2 separate regions of the Homo sapiens genome follow, and region 2 is linked to region 1. The links come from fine-mapping of genetic effects on gene expression. A gene starts in region 1. The other region holds a variant in brackets. All regions are shown on one strand. Distances are from middle to middle. Region 1 holds the start of NCBP3 (nuclear cap binding subunit 3). Region 2 overlaps NCBP3 (nuclear cap binding subunit 3).

Region 1 (2,912 bases):
GTTGGGATTACAGGCATGAGCCACCGTGCCCGGCCTCAACCCAATTTTTAAAAGTACTTTGTGTCCCATTCATCAAATAAAACTAGTCCTCTAAAGAGCTCTGTCTTGTGTTTATCCTGTGGTTTAGCCCAAATTTAAGAAAAACTGTGATGTACTGCACCCCTTCTGTTGGACCCTGTATCTACATATAAATTATCACATTTAACCCTCACAACCTCCTTTGTAGGTAGGTAATGGTCCATTTTACTGATGAAGGAACTGAGACTCCAAAGTGCTAAGCAGCTTGCCTAAGGTCACACATGGTGGATGGGGCCCGGCCAGCCAGCTCGAAACCCAGGTGTGTCTGATGCTGACCATGCTCTTCCTTGGTTTATCATTATTTGCTCCTCCATGGTCAGAGCTGGTAGGGCCTCAGGGCCTCAGAGACTGTAGGGTCTCACCTATGCCCTCCTCAGATGGGAAAACAGACCCAAAAACCTGTCCAAGGTTACCCAGGGAGGAAGATGCAAAATCAGGACTCAGGCCGGGCGCGGTGGCTCATGCCTGTAATCCCAAGACTTTGGGAGGCCGAGGCGGGTGGATCGCTTGAGGTTAGGAATTCGAGACCAGCTTAGTCAACATGGTGAAACCCTGTCTCTACAAAAAAAAAAAAAAAAAAGAAAGAAAGAAAGAAAGAGGAGAGGGAGGAAGGAAGGAAAAGAGAAAGAAAGAAAAGAAGAAAGAAAGGAAGGAAGAAAGGAATAAAGAAAGAAAGAAAGAAAGAAAAAGAAAATCAGGACTCAGAACAGCAGCTGATCAGTGACACCCTCGGGACGCGTAGACAACCCCTCTCCCCCACCAGGCTCTCGTTAGAAATATCCGCCGGAAACTATGCTCACAGGTCTACAGTGGATGGCACCCTCAGGAGTCAGGAAATCGGCGTCCAAGTTCTGGCCTTTGGGCAGGTCTCTCCCTCTTGGAGTCTCAATTTTTGTGTATGTAACATGGGCCAATTTTGGGGAGACTTTTAAGAGACAAAGACTGGCAAGGCAAGTAACTTTATAAACCTACAGATTGTCCAGAGGTGATATATCAAGGCTCATTGTAAACTCTGGAAGACTTAGATCCAGCTTTTATCCCTTAAATGGCGTCACCTTGGGTCAATTTCTATGCCTCAGTTTCCTCATATATGAAATGGGGGTCAAAATAGGATCTACTTCATAGAGTTGTTCTAAGGGTTCGAGCGCTTGGAAGTGTCTGGCCCATAGTGATCACTCAGGAAAGTTGGCTTTTAGTACAGCTTTAGCCTCAAGGCGTAGCTACATTGTAACCCTTGACTACCCCGGTCTCCTCCAAGCTCCGTAGTTCCCGCAGGCCCCGCCCCCGTCCCCGCTCAGTCCCGCCTTCTCCTCCCCAGGTCCCGCCCGCGCAGCCGGCCCGGTTTTCTCCCGCCACCAGGGGGCGGCGGCGCTAAGGGCGGCCTTCTGGGCCGAAGCCGGCGACGCTCTAGGTAGCTGCGGCGGCTCCTCTGTGGCCAGTGGCAGCGGCGCTCTAGCCGGCGGCCGTGAGGGGCGGGCTCTCAGTGGTGCGGCCGGCAGGCAGCGATGGCGGCCGTACGGGGCCTGCGGGTGTCGGTGAAGGCGGAGGCCCCGGCGGGGCCGGCCCTGGGGCTCCCGTCCCCTGAGGCGGAGTCCGGTGTTGACCGTGGCGAGCCGGAGCCCATGGAGGTGGAGGAGGGCGAGCTGGAAATCGTGCCTGTGCGGCGCTCGCTCAAGGAACTGATCCCGGTACGGGCGGGGGTCGGGGGGTAAGGAAGAGGTCGCGGGGCTAGTGTCTAGCGCCGGAGGGGGCCGGAAGGGGCGGTGGCCGGAGCCCCAGCCGGGGAAGTCAAGGGAGCGGGAGAGGAGGGAGCCAGCGTCCTGGGAACGGGAACGCCGGGCTGGAGGAGGGACGCGGAGCGGGAGAAAGGACGCCGGGGCGCCGGAAATGGGTGTTGAGGGGGCTGGGGGGTGGTGGCGGAGAGCTGGGAGGGAGTTGAGGACCCCCCTCCGCTGCCCCCTCTGAGCCGCGCTGTGCAAGGAGGTGAGTGAGGAGGGGCTGGAAGGATGAGATAAAGGGGGAGCCCTGGGCGGGAACAGAACCAGGGGCAGCCCAGAAGGAGCTGTTGGGTGGCGCCAGCAACCAGGTCTCCTTGTGGGTCTTGCCCCGGAGGAATTTGTATCTGGGAAACATGGCACTCGCTCTTTGTCTTGAGAGGGCTGCACTTGTCAGCAGCAGAAACTCACTGTTTCTGTCGTGACTTCGGGGTCATCTTGCCCCCCCCGCAGCTCCAGTGACACCTACACCGTGGCCCCAGCATCTGACTCTTAATGAAAGCAAACTAGCAGACGACCAATAGACATCCTTGGTCCCTCCTTTACCGCGCTGGGGATGGTGAGAGGTGTTTTGCTTGTGACTTGGTGGCTGTATATCCAGTTCTCAGAGCTGGTTTCAGGCCTGGATGACTCCTCTTAATTTCTCACCTAACATGAATTACTTTTGACCACATGTCAACATATTTAGACTGAAGTTATGGAGAAAGGTTAAAGTATGATCGCTAGAGATGGCAAACGTTATAATTATGATTAACAACAGCTAATATAGTAGCATTTACCATTCACTATATTGTGTCACTTAAATATACTGGCCGTGCACGCCTTTAGTGCCAGCTATTCAGGAGTCTAAGTTCCAGACCAGCCTCAGCAATATAGCAAGACCCCTTTGAGGTCCCCCCTTTCCCCTCTCCCCATCTCAAAAACAAAACCAAAATAAATAAATATTACTGCAGTTGTGAAGCAGGTGTTATCATCCCTTTAGTCATTCAGTTCAACATGGTTTTTGTTTTGTTTTGTTTTGAGACGGAGTTCGCTCTTGTTGCCCAGGCTGGAACGCAA
Region 2 (2,912 bases), 22 kb after region 1:
CAAGCAGGAAGACAGTTCAGATGATGATGAAGCTGAAGAAGGAGAGGTTGAAGATGAGAACTCAAGTGATGTAGAGGTTAGTAATAGGGGAAAGATAGATGTAAAGTTATTGTAAAAAATTGCTCACTGTCTTTTTAACTTAAGCCTTAAAGACTTAGTTACGTTTTTTCTCTAGCTTTCACCATTAGACCTTCTGAGGGTGCACCAGGCTCTTGTCCTTTAAGTTAGTGTGGATATAGCGATTCACCTTGAAATCTTAGAATAGTGCTTATGCTTCTACAAAAAAAGAAAATAGTTTTATTGAGAAATACTTTGAAGTGTTATCTAATTAGTAAAATGAAGAAACAGCAAGTAATGGCATACTTCCTAATGGATTATGTACTGTTGTTAAAAATATTAACATGCATTCATTTAAAAAATATTTACTGAGTACCTATTATATACCATATTCTAAGTGCTAGGGATATAGCTTCAAGCAAAACAAAGTCCTGGCCCTCTCGGAGCCTGCATTCTAGTGGGGAGTGCAGAGGATACACTGATGCACAGATATCTCATACTGTGTCAGGTGGCAATGAGTGTTGTGAAAAGAGTAGGGGATAGAGAATGATGGAGACTGTTCTTTTAGACAAGGTGGGCAGGGGAAATCTCTGAGTTAGAAATTCTACAGCGGAACTAGTGCTATAATGCTTGTAAGTATTAAAGGTAGAATGCTTTTCTTAATGGTAGCTTTACTACTGAAGAAATATCAAAAGGACTTTAATTTTTATATTAAAAATACTCTTCTTTCTTAAGTTGGATACGTTGTCTCAGGTAGAAGAGGAGTCTTTGTTAAGAAACGATCTTCGTCCAGCTAACAAACTTGCTAAAGGAAATAGGTTATTCATGAGATTTGCTACAAAAGGTAAATGTAATATTTGGTATTGTTTTATATTTTCAATCAAAATGATTTATTATGGAGTGACATCCTTCTTTTTTGAATAGAAGTTAGATCAAGTAATCTCAAAGTTCCCTTCAAACTATAATATTCTGCGCTTATGAAATAATTGCTTGCCACCTGAGTTGGAATTTCTGACTTTAAAAGTGAATATTAACTATTTGTATATTTCTGTGACTTCTGGCTAAAGTTATTTTCTGTTGAAACTGGTTTGCCTCATATATTTTCAGCCAGTTACCATCTGAATTATGAAAACTTTCAAATGAAACTTTATTTATTACAGCAACGTCCTCCTGAACATTGCCAGTGTACCATTCGGTTCTAATTCCCTTCTCATAAGATTGTTTACACATGGTGACTTTTGGT[G/A]GGCATTTAAAAATGTGTGTGTATGTGTATATATGTATGTGTATGTATGTGTATATATGTATATGTATGTATGTATCGCGTGTATGTGTGTATGTATGCATGTGTATGTATGTATATGTATGTATGTGTATGTGTATATATGTATGTGTGTGTATGTATATGTGTGTGTATGTGTATGTGTGTGTGTATGTGTGTGTGTATGTATGTATGTATGTATATGTATTATACACATATACACATATTGGTTTTTTTAATCATTTGAGAGTTAGTTGAAGATAAAAACCCATCACCCCTAAATGTATTCCAAAGAATAAGAACATTGTTTTATACATAGCACACTTAACAAAATCAAGAAATTTAACATTAATACAGTACTGTTACCTAATCCGTAGTCGATTTTCAAATTTTGTCAGTTGTTCCAATAATGTCCTTTATATATTCCCCGCCCAGCCCCAGGTCTAGGATCCATCCAGGACTGAGTGTGTAAGTATGTAATGTTTCCTTAGTCCCCCTTAAGCTGAAACTACTTCTATCCTCCCATGTTTTCCAAGAATATAGGTTTACTATTTTATACAATGTCCCTCAGTTTGGGTTTGTCTGATGATTCCTCCTGATTGAATTTGGGTTGTGCATTTGAGACAGGCGTGCCACAGAAGCGATGTCATGTCATTTCCAGAGCATCATGTCAGGAGGCCCTGGATACTTACTCGTCCCAGTCCTAGGGACGTTCACTTTATTCACTTGGTTAAGGTAATCATCACTAGGTTTTTCCACTGTAAAGTTGCTATTCTTCCATTTGTAATTTAAAAATTGGTGGGCTGGCTGGTTACAGTGGCTCGTGCCTGTAATTGCAACACTTTGGGATGCTGAGGCAGAAGGATCACTTGAGCCCAGGAGTTCGAGACCAGGCTAGGCAACATAGCAAGACCTCATCCCTATTTTAAAAAATAAAAAAATGATTAAAATAAAAAATTGGTGGGCAGATACTTTGAGATCACGTAAATAGCCTCTTGCTCATCAGAGCTTCATGCCTTTCTGACTATGTCATTTCTTTACCAGTAGACAGGTGCTCTAAGGAAGAGCCTTCTGTTTTTACCTGTTTGTTTATTTACATCAGTTTAGAATCATGGATTCTTTATTCAGTGGGTTATCATCCATGGATATCAGTATTTAATTTTATTTATTTTTTTGTTTGTTTTGAGACGGAGTGTTGCTCTGTCACCAGGCTGGAGTGCAGTGGCGCGATCTTGGCTCACTGCAACCGCTGCCTCCCTGCAACCTCTGCCTCCCTGCAACCTCTGCCTCCTGGGTTCAAGCAATTCTCCTGTCTCAGCTTCCCTAGTAGCTGGGACTACAGGTGCATGCCACCATGCCCAGCTAATTTTTGTATTTTTAGTAGAGATGGGGTTCACCATGTTGGCCAGGATGGTCTCGATCTCTTGACCTTGTGATCCGCCCGCCTCAGCCTCCCAAAGTACTGGGATTACAGGCGTGAGCCATCGCGCCCAGCCTAATATCAGTATTTTAATTTACAAATTGTCTTGGATTTGGCCAGTAGAGCCCCTTCAAGCTGTTTTGACATACTCCATGATTCTTTAAGCACTTTCTTTCT

What was found. PIP is the estimated chance that this variant, and not a neighbour inherited with it, causes the effect.
Region 2: its variant is fine-mapped to the expression of NCBP3 in whole blood (TOPMed, PIP above 0.99). The same link has a PIP of 0.9 or more in blood mononuclear cells and lung.

The regions. Positions count from the first base shown.
Region 1 is chr17:3,844,895-3,847,806 of GRCh38, reverse strand. NCBP3 (nuclear cap binding subunit 3) reads left to right here and starts at 1,561. Exons shown (of 13, transcript NM_001114118.3): 1 at 1,561-1,766. The coding sequence starts at 1,584. RefSeq lists silencers at 1,273-1,392, 1,573-1,862.
Region 2 is chr17:3,822,931-3,825,842 of GRCh38, reverse strand. It overlaps NCBP3 (nuclear cap binding subunit 3), which reads left to right. Exons shown (of 13, transcript NM_001114118.3): 6 at 1-76; 7 at 793-901. Among named protein-coding and RNA genes, the nearest start is that of NCBP3, 22 kb to the left of the region's middle. The variant G/A (reference allele first, on the strand shown) is at 1,301.